Linked DNA regions of Homo sapiens. The protein of the gene in region 3 interacts with the protein of the main gene of each other region in a biochemical or structural test. Each region holds a gene or a part of one and is shown on either strand. Other genes may lie near its edges.

Region 1 (2,562 bases), on a different chromosome or scaffold from region 3:
TGAGCCCTTGCTGAGTTAGCACCACTGCCGCAGCACCCTGGCAGTGGGCTGTACTGGGGACTCAGAGTGTTTCTGGCTGGCACCATTCATGGACATGGCCCAGCTCCACCCACAGGCACACCCTTATCAATTCTGTGACCTCTTGGGACCGCAGGTTTGCCTCTTCTAAACATGGATTGTTAACACTCCCAGGAGGCTCCAGGATGACCCACGCATGTAAGTGATGCACCCACACTTTAGTCCCTGTCCCCTCAACGAGACGCCCAAGAGCGCCCTCTGCAGGCCCCGACTGTCTGAAGTCTCCGGCTTTCTTGCTGATTATACCTCATCTCCTTCCCTCTAGGGAGGCAGGAACACTTCTATGTACCTCTTTTGGAGAGGCTGGGAATGGGGAGAGAGATCAGAAGCCCCAGGACCTGGGCCCCAGCCAGCCCTCCCATCTCCAAGAGCATAGGCCCCTGGCACTGCCCGCTCCCAGGAAGGAAGAAACCCACACGACTAACCAGTGTCTGAGAGCATTTTTATTACGGGCAGCAGAACGGGATCGCAGCATCTTAGAAAGCCTATTCTCTGCCGTGGTGGGGAGTAGGGAGCAGAGGGAAGGACCCAGCACACTTCAAGAAACCAGGCGGGTGTGAATTCCTGAGTGAGCTTGGGGCAGCAGTGGGTGGCTGCTCCACAGCTCGCCCCTCCTCCAGAGGACCCAGCTTTTTGGTTTTGGAGCAGCCAGGGCTGTTCGCCAGCTTGCTCAGAGCCTACCCTGAAGGCATGGCTGGCAGGAGCAAGCCGCCCAGGCCCAAAGGAGAGACACCCACTGGCTCGAAAGCCAAGCCTCTGCTGACGGGGCCAACCCTGGGGTGCCAGTGCCAGGGCTGAGAGTCCCTGAGGGGCTGCCGGCACACAGGTATCCTCCCGTGATGAGCAGAGTGCAGTGAGGGGTTGACAGGCAGGCAGAGCTACGTTGGCAGAAATACGAAGCAATGGGACAGTTTCCAAGAATGGCAACATTTCTGGATCCAGAGAAGCAACAAGAACAAATGGTGGCTTGTTTGGATAGCTGACAGAATTTGGCATTTTATTACAAACTGGAGTGTGAGTGAAATAAAATCCATCATCACTTTTCTGCTAATGAAGACAGATGTGGAAACGCCAGCCCGGTGCCCTTGCCATCCCGGGCACAAGGGAGTCTCCAGAAACCTGCCCTTGGCGTACCTAGGACAAAAGAAGCCGAGTTCGTGTACACACCGCAGGGGCCATGCGCCTGAACAATGTTAGGCTGCCGAACCTGCCCATCACTCCCCACTTCTGCACAGACCAGACCAAGCTGTCTTACACGCCTGTAGGCCCCGGAAAGATCTCAAGTTATAGAATTAAAATTAAAACAAAAAGCAAAGTTTAAGTCATCTTCTCCACAGGATCTAGTCCCCCCCAAGAGCCAAGAAGGGAAGCCGCCAGTGGCAGAAGCGGGGTTGGTGACACACGGCATTTGGATCGTCGGCTTCCTTGGGGTGTCAGAGCGACATGGATTCTCTACTAGTGCGGGGACAATCCCATTTGCCTTGAAAAGACATTAATATTCAAATCTTTACAAGTTTATCTGACGATAAATTCTAAGGTCAATTTTTATTTCTACAAAAAAAGGCAGTCAAAACAATATAAAACACATTGAAAGGATATTACTGAGTGAGCTTCAAGTGGAGCTTGACTCTGCAAAGGCTGTGAGTCCGAAGGGAGAGGAAGTCCGTCTTGTTCCCGGGCTGGGCTGGCTGCTCTGGAGGAGGGGGTCAGCAGGGGCCCAGGCGACCCCAGACTGGTGCTTTAAATAGCCGAGTCCTGCTAATTCCAATCCTACAAAGGGTCAAAGTGTGCCGAGGGAGGGCTGTGGCAGGGCCACTGCACGGAGGAAGTGGAGAGCAAGCTCCGTGGCACATTCGGATGAAGCTCGGTGACAGATGAGCTAGGAGTTTCAAACGGACATTCTGGCTGTAGCTTTGCCTGCAAGGACCAGCAGATCTTCTACAATGGCTGCAGGGAGAAGTGCCAACCTGGGACCTCAGGAGCCTTTCTGGCGAGATTCATCACACACAGTGTGCACAGCATCCTCCTGACTAGCAGGCCCCCCATTTCGGGGCCACCACAGACCTGTGATTATAGGGCTTCTCTGTGCAGGCCAGGCCAGAGGTCAGTTACACACACTGACATCAGGGCTTGCCCAATTAACTGATGTTACTGTGGTAACATCAGCTGGAGTTTCACACAAGAACTGAGGAGAAGGACTGGAGGAGGGGTGTGGCTGTTTGTTTTTAAATTTTTTAAAAGGATGTTATAAACTGGAGTCAGGAGAATTTAAACCAACTCCCACACTGGGCAACAGTGCCACACATGCTAAGAAAAGCCACCAGGACCGCCAGGGCAGTCTCTTCTCCTTTGTGGAGGCGAGCCCGGGGTCTGGGGAAGTAAGTAAGTGAAAAATAAACTCGGTGCCAGAAAGTGGGAGTGGCAAGGGTAGGGAAGAAAGGGAACCACAACCGTTTTTTTTCCTTTTTTTTAAACCTTATGGGT
Region 2 (3,696 bases), on a different chromosome or scaffold from region 3:
TCCACAAATACAACGTTGTGTTAATCAGATTGATAAAGCAAAGCTCTAAACACAGAACTGAGAAACTCTGTAAAATGCCACACTAAATATTTTAGGCTTTGTCACAACCACTAACCTCTAATGTTGTAGCCCAAAGCAGCCCTAAACAATACACTAACGAATGTGACTGTGATCCAATAAAGTTTTTTTTCTTGAGACGGAGTCTTGCTCTGTTGCCCAAGCTGGAGTGCAGTGGTGTGATCTTGGCTCACTGCAACCTCTGCCTCTCAGGTTGAAGCGATTCTCCTGCCTCAGCCTCCGAGTAGCTGGATTTCAGGTGCCCACCGCCCCCCACCCCTAGGTAATTTTTGTATTTTAGTAGAGACGGGCTTTCACCATGTTGGTCAGGCTGGTCTCAAACTCCTGACCTTGTGATCCATCTGCCCTGTCCTCCCAAAGTGCTGGGATTACAGGCATAAGCCACTGCACCAAGCCCAATAAAGTTCTCTTTACAAAAACAGGCATCTGGTCAGATTGGGTCCACGGGCTGTTTATTGATACACACTAAACACAATTTTCTCCTAATCCTAGACCCAGCATTTTCTGCATTACACTAGCCCAGTGGTCCTTTCTGAAACTACACTGTTCAAGTTACAGACATATTTAAATGTTTAAATTTAAAATGTTAAATTTAACATTTTAACATGTTTAAATGTTCATAGACACATACAACCTGCACTTTTACTCTTTGAGAAATGAATGCAGTAAATTTACTTAGCTTTCTGAGGGAAATGATAGCCTGAAGGCATGACGTTTTCAAATACCCCAAACTCCAACTAAGATAACCTGGAACCTATTAAATGGATATCCAACATTTTGTACTGAACTCTAAGGATATGAACACCAGGACAATGGTTATTCTGAGGCACAGAAAATACAGCCAAAGCAGCAGCTCAGTATGTACCCCGACAGTGCCTAGAAGAGACTTATGTGGGAGACAAAGTTTCTGGTCAGGTGTATTTGTATACTTCATCAGGCATATGCCTTGCATTACATAGCTCTCGCCCCCAACTTGGCAACATCTTATTGGTTTTCAGAATATACTGATGACGGATTGCCAAAAGAGCTCATGAATGAATATTTTCCATTCTAAGGAAACTTTTTTTCTTTTTGAGACGGAGTTTCACTATTGTTGCCCAGGCTGGAGTGCGATGGGGCGGTCTTGGCTCACTGCAACCCCCATCTCCCAGGTTCAAGCGATTCTCCTGCCTCAGCCTCTCAAATAGCTGCAATTACAGGTGCCGCCACCACGCCCAGCTAGTTTTTATATTTTTGGTAGAGATGGGGTTTCACCATGTTGGCCAGGCTGGTCTCAAGCTCCTGACCTCAGGTGATCTGCCTGCCTTGGCCTCCCAAAGTGCTGGGATTGCAGGCATGACCTACTGCACCCAGACCACTTTTTTTTTTTTTAAAAGAGATGGAGTTTCCTTTATCTGTTGCCCAGGCTGGAGTGCAGTAGCACAATCACAGCTACACTGCAGCCTCGAACTTCTGGGCACAAGCAGTCCTCCTGCCTCAGAGTGGCTGGGACTACAGGTGTGCACCACGACGCCCAGTTATCTAGTTTACTCTTACCCAAGTATAAATGATATGAAACAATCTGAGACTAGTCAGTCAACTGTCCTTGGTAAGATCTCCTTCTTGACAGCCATGTGGATTCTATCACACCCTTTATAATTTACAGCAATCTTCAGTGGTTAAAGCAAAACTGTACATCTATAAAGGAATTCAAGAGAAGTGCAGGAAAAGGATGACAAAAGGTAAATCCCTAGCTACCACCAGAATGTTATCTATCTAAAACTGCCAACTTACGAATAGGTAAAACTTATGGTAAAATTATAAAGGTGAGCACAACAGGAACTGGAATCTATTCTGAAGGGCAATATAATGTACTTCCAAGAATTCTAGATTTTTTTTTTTTTTTGGAGACAGTTTCACTCGTCACCCAGGCTTGAGTGCAGTGGCACAATCTTGGCTCACTGCAACCTCCACCTCCCAAGTTCAAGTGATTCTTGTGCCTCAGCCTCCCAAGTAGCTGAGATTACAGGTGCCCACCACCACACCTGGCTAATTTTTATGTTTTTTGTAGAGACAGGGTTTCGCCATGTTGACCAGGCTGGTCTCAAACGCCTGACCTCAAGTGATCTGCCTGCCTTGGCCTCCCAAAGTGCTGGGATTACAGGCATGAGCGACCATGCCCGGCTAATTCTAGATTTAATAGAGTAAAGAGAAAGTACTTTTGTTACAGACCACTGGTTCTAGTCCTAGACCCAGAATGTCAATACAGTAGCCACTAGCCACTTGTGCCTATGTAAATTTAAAATAAAATACTTTCTAGTCACACTAGCTATATTTCAAGGGCTTAACAGCCACATGTGGTTAGTGGCTACCACACTGGACAGCAAAAGTCTACAAAATATCCATCGTCACAGAAAGTTCTATTAGACAGCACTGTTCTAGACAAAATAAGCATGTAGGTGGCATCTGAATACCCCTTAAATACATCTGGCCCTTGTTTTTGATTCTACCAACCTAGCCACTTACAGCGAAGCACTAGAAATGAAAACATGTGGTTTATAGTGCTCTTTTTTTCCCCTATTTCCTTATTTCTGAAGGTATATATCCCTGATAGAAATGTCCTTTTTAAAAAATTACATAATTGGCCAGGCGTGGTGGCTCACGCCTGTAATCCCAGCACTTTGGGAGGCCGAGGCAGGTAGATCACCTGACGTCGGGAGTTCAAGACCAGCCTGTCCAGCATGGAGAAACCCTGTCTCTACTAAAAACACAAAATAAGCTGGGCATGGTGGCGCATGCTTGTAATCCCAGCTACTTGAGAGGCTGAGTCAGGAGAATCGCTTGAACCTGGAAGGCGGAGGTTGCGGTGAGCAGCGATCACGCCATTGCACTCCAGCCTGGGCAACAAGAGTGAAATTATCTCAAAAAAATAAAAATAAAAAAGTTACAGAATCACATTTTAAACCACCAGAAGTGCTTGGGTATAACTGACCTAGAACATGGCAGTTACTCATCTGTGCCAACACAGACCTTAATATAGGAGGCATAGAAATGAGAAAAATTGGCCGGACGTGGTGGCTCACACCTGTAATCCTAGAACTTTGGGAGGCCAAGGTGGGTGGATCACGAGGTCAGGAGTCCAAGACCAGTCTGGCCAACATGGTGAAACACCATCTCCACTAAAAATACAAAAATTAGCCAGGCGTGGTGGCGGGTGCCTGTAATCCCAGCTACTCAGGAGGCTGAGGCAGGAGAATCACTTGCAACTGGAAGGCGGAGGTTGCAGTGAGATTGCACCACTGTACTCAGCCTGGGCGAAAAGGGCGAAACTCCGTCTCAGAAAAAATAAATGAGAAAAATTTTAAACCTGAAAAAAAATTAAACCTAAGTTACTACTGGGCTGATTACTTCTGGGTTAAATAATAAGATTTCTGAATTTGAAAACCAGGCAGGGCCTGGTGGCTCACGCCTGTAATCCCAGCACTTTGGGGAGCCAAGGCAAGTGGACGGATTGCTTGAGCTCAGGAGTTTGAGACCAGCCTGGGACCACATGGCAAAACTCCATCTCTACAAAAAAATTAGCTGGGCATGGTGGCGAACACCTGTAGTCCCAGCTACTTGGGAAGCTGAAGTGAGAGA
Region 3 (3,651 bases):
TCTTAAACTAGCCTCAAGCGATCCTCCCACCTCAGCCTCCCAAAGTGTTGGGATTACAGATGTGAGCCACCACGTCCAGAGGCCCAGCTTTGACTGTTTCCTTTCTTCTTTCCCAGGCAGCTCACTTTGCTGGTGGCCAGTGAGGACTCAAGCTACATGCCAGCCAGGGTGGTGGTGTTTGGGGGTGACAGCACCAGCTGCATCGGCACTGAGCTCAACACGGTGGGGACCCTTGTGCCCACCTTCACCTTGCTCCACATCCTTCTTTTTGTCCCAGTGCCTGTGGGAAGGACCTAGTCCCTGGGGAATGGTGACATCCCTTCCCCTTGGGAAGGTGTTGCCTTGTAAGCAGTGAGAGTGGGATTAGGGATGCAGAGCCACGTCCATCCCTAGGCTCTGCGGGAGAAGTGAAGGGCACACACCATGACCGACTTGGTTACTGTCAACAATTTTTCCAACCTTGTTTCTGGAGGTGACAGTTCTCTCCCTCTTCTCCCCTGCCCTACCAGGTGAATGTGATGCCCTCTGCCAGCCGGGTGATCCTCTTGGAGAACCTGAACCGCTTCTGGCCCATCATCCAGATCCGCATAAAGCGCTGCCAGCAGGTGGTGTTAGGGTGTCAGCCAGGGCTGAGGAGGAGGAGGTGGCACACAAGTTTCTCCTTGATCTGCTTGGGAGATGGCCCAGGACCTGTTGAGTCCCAGAGATGTGGGGATGTCCTGAGCAGTTCTAGGGAGCTCAGGGCAGGAGGCTTGGCTTTGGTAGTACTTAGTGGCTCAAGCGGCTTGGGTGACAGATAAGTCTGTGCATGTTCCAGGGCGGCATTGACACCCGGGTTCGGGGTGTGGAGGTCCTGGGCCCTAAGCCCACATTCTGGCCACTGTTCCGGGAGCAGCTGTGTCGCCGAACATGTCTCTTCTACACAATTCGGGCACAAGCCTGGAGCCGGGACATAGCAGAGGACCACCGGCGCCTCCTCCAGCTCTGTCCCAGGTGGGTGGGGCCTGAGGAGGGAAGATGGGTAAGGGAACAGGACACTGTGAGAAGTAGGAGGGATGCTCCTGTGGGAGTCCGGAAGGGAAAGCTGCAGCCAGGACATGAGGGGGAAGGTGAACGTAGGTGAGAAGTTTGTGTTAATTGGGAAAAGTTGGGTCAGGGACCGAACAGGGGTGATTGGGAGCTGATCTGCACTTGAATGGAGGCCTCTGGGAAATCGGTGCCATTAATCCTCCGCCATGCACTGTTTGTTCCCAGACTGAACAGGGTTTTGCGCCACGAGCAGAATTTTGCTGACCGCTTCCTCCCTGATGATGAGGCCGCCCAGGCACTGGGCAAGACCTGCTGGGAGGCCCTGGTCAGCCCCCTGGTGCAGAACATCACCTCTCCCGGTAACCATGCTGACACCTGGCCCCACTAACCAGTTCCTTGTCCTTATTCCCAGGGATCACCTGAGTTAATGCTCTTGGTTCTTTTGGTTCCTGTCTTTATCCCTGAAGGCCTGTCACCTCAGTGTTCCTCTCTCCTTCCTGCCCCAGGCACTGCTCCCTGAGACTCTGGTATTTGAATCTTTCCCACTACCCCATCCCCACCCTGTTAACATTTCCCCTGACTCCAGCTGAAACAAACCTTGGTGAGGGGAGGACTAGGGCCCCACTACCCCTCAAGCCTTTTTGTACAATTGATCTTTCTCCCTCCTCTGCCCTGAGCTGTCTGTTCTCCCATCTCCCATGGAGACCTGTTCCTGACCTGTCTTCTTTCAGATGCGGAAGGCGTGAGTGCCCTGGGATGGCTGCTGGATCAGTACTTAGAACAGAGAGAGACCTCTCGGAACCCCTTGAGTCGAGCAGCGTCCTTTGCTTCTCGAGTTCGTCGCCTTTGCCACTTGCTGGTGCATGTGGAACCTCCTCCTGGGCCTTCTCCTGAGCCATCCACTCGGCCCTGTAAGTCCCAGCTGTGGCCAGTGGAGCTGACTCTGCGGACAGTGGTGTATCTGGCTCCCTCCTCCCTGGGTCTTACTCTTGCTGCTTTGCTACCGGCCTTTCCAGGCCCCTGAGACCTACTGGCCTTTCCAGGAGATCACTACCCAAGACCGGTGTACTCACCCAGAGGCTGAGATGAAACCCCTTCCTTCTCCCTCTGTCTCTACAGTCAGCAAGAACAGCAAGGGTCGGGACCGGAGCCCGGCGCCTTCGCCAGTGCTTCCAAGCAGCAGCCTGAGGAACATAACCCAGTGCTGGCTGAGCGTGGTGCAGGAGCAGGTGGGCAGAAGCAAGCAGAAGTCTGCAGAGGGGAGGGGCTGCTCCTTTTATGTCATTTCTTGCCTTTCTCCTCAGGTCAGCAGATTCCTGGCTGCAGCTTGGAGGGCCCCAGACTTTGTGCCTCGTTACTGTAAACTCTATGAGCACTTGCAGAGAGCAGGCTCCGAGCTGTTTGGGCCTCGGGCAGCCTTCATGCTGGCTCTGCGCAGTGGCTTCTCTGGCGCCTTGCTGCAGCAGTCCTTCCTCACTGCTGCTCACGTGAGTCCCACCAGCTCCCCACAGGGCTATAAGCTTGTGTTCCAAGTTCATCTCTTTCTGCTCTGCCCTTTCACCTCCTTTCGCTCCCCAGTCTCCTACTCCACTCCCTCATTCATGGTTTGCTCATGCCCTTTCCCCTGCCCCCAGATGAGTGAGCAGTTTGCCAGGTACATTGACCAACAGATCCAGGGTGGCCTGATTGGTGGAGCCCCTGGAGTGGAAATGCTGGGGCAGCTTCAGCGGCACCTGGAACCCATTATGGTCCTTTCTGGTCTGGAACTGGCCACAACTTTTGAGCACTTCTATCAGTGAGTGCAGGTCTGGAGGCATAGGGGATGGGAGGCCTAGATCTAGAGAGTGGAAAGATTTGAGTCTTATAGGGGAGATGAGAAAAGAGGCTGTGTAGAGGAGAGATTAAGATGTGGAGATGGCTGGCCAGGCGCGGTGGCTCACGCATGTAATCCCAGCATTCTGGCAGGCAGATCACCTGAGGTCAGGAGTTCAAGACCAGCCTGACCAACATGGTGAAACCCTTTCTCTACTAAAAATACAAAAATTAGCCAGGTGTGGTGGCGTGGTGGCAGGCACCTGTAATCCCAGCTATTCGGGAGGGTGAGGCAGGTGAATCTCTTGAACCCGGGAGGCAGAGGTTGCAGTGAGCCAAGACCACGTCATTGCACTTCAGCCTGGGTGACAAGAGCAAGACTCCGTCTCAAAAAAAAAAAAAAAAAGTGGAGGTGGTCATGCATTGGTGGAAAGGGAGTGGGAAAGAAGAGGTGAGGTAGGGTATGTGACTCAGGCAGAGGGACAGAGGGACCTACATTCTCGAGGGGGAGGCTGGGCCACGCTGGCACCCACACTGAGGCTTGGCCCGGGCTGTGTGTGCTGCAGGCATTATATGGCGGACCGTCTCCTGAGCTTTGGTTCGAGCTGGCTGGAGGGGGCTGTGCTAGAGCAGATTGGCCTCTGTTTTCCCAACCGCCTCCCACAGCTGATGCTGCAGAGCCTGAGCACCTCTGAGGAGCTGCAGCGCCAGTTCCACCTCTTCCAGCTCCAGCGGCTCGACAAGTTGTTCTTGGAGCAGGAAGATGAGGAGGAAAAGAGACTAGAGGAAGAGGAGGTAAGAGCAGGGAGA

Evidence for each region.
Region 1: the proteins of CUL9 (region 3) and UBE2L3 form a complex in vitro, tested with the Homo sapiens proteins (2 studies listed by BioGRID).
Region 2: of the proteins of CUL9 (region 3) and CYCS, one has a biochemical effect on the other in vitro, tested with the Homo sapiens proteins (one study listed by BioGRID).

Annotation. Positions count from the first base shown.
Region 1 is NC_000022.11:21,621,976-21,624,537, reverse strand, and holds the end of UBE2L3 (ubiquitin-conjugating enzyme E2 L3), read right to left. Parts: 3' UTR 504-2,562; downstream 1-503. UniProt on the Homo sapiens protein: Ubiquitin-conjugating enzyme E2 that specifically acts with HECT-type and RBR family E3 ubiquitin-protein ligases.
Region 2 is NC_000007.14:25,118,143-25,121,838, forward strand, and holds the end of CYCS (cytochrome c), read right to left. Parts: 3' UTR 514-3,696; downstream 1-513. UniProt on the Homo sapiens protein: Electron carrier protein. The oxidized form of the cytochrome c heme group can accept an electron from the heme group of the cytochrome c1 subunit of cytochrome reductase.
Region 3 is NC_000006.12:43,202,600-43,206,250, forward strand, and holds part of CUL9 (cullin-9), read left to right. Parts: intron 1-116; coding exon 117-222; intron 223-509; coding exon 510-605; intron 606-817; coding exon 818-993; intron 994-1,254; coding exon 1,255-1,388; intron 1,389-1,496; coding exon of another isoform or gene 1,497-1,549; exon of another isoform or gene 1,550-1,754; intron 1,755-1,760; coding exon 1,761-1,940; intron 1,941-2,148; coding exon 2,149-2,258; intron 2,259-2,333; coding exon 2,334-2,516; coding exon of another isoform or gene 2,517-2,663; coding exon 2,664-2,824; intron 2,825-3,407; coding exon 3,408-3,636; intron 3,637-3,651. UniProt on the Homo sapiens protein: Core component of a Cul9-RING ubiquitin-protein ligase complex composed of CUL9 and RBX1. The CUL9-RBX1 complex mediates ubiquitination and subsequent degradation of BIRC5 and is required to maintain microtubule dynamics and genome integrity.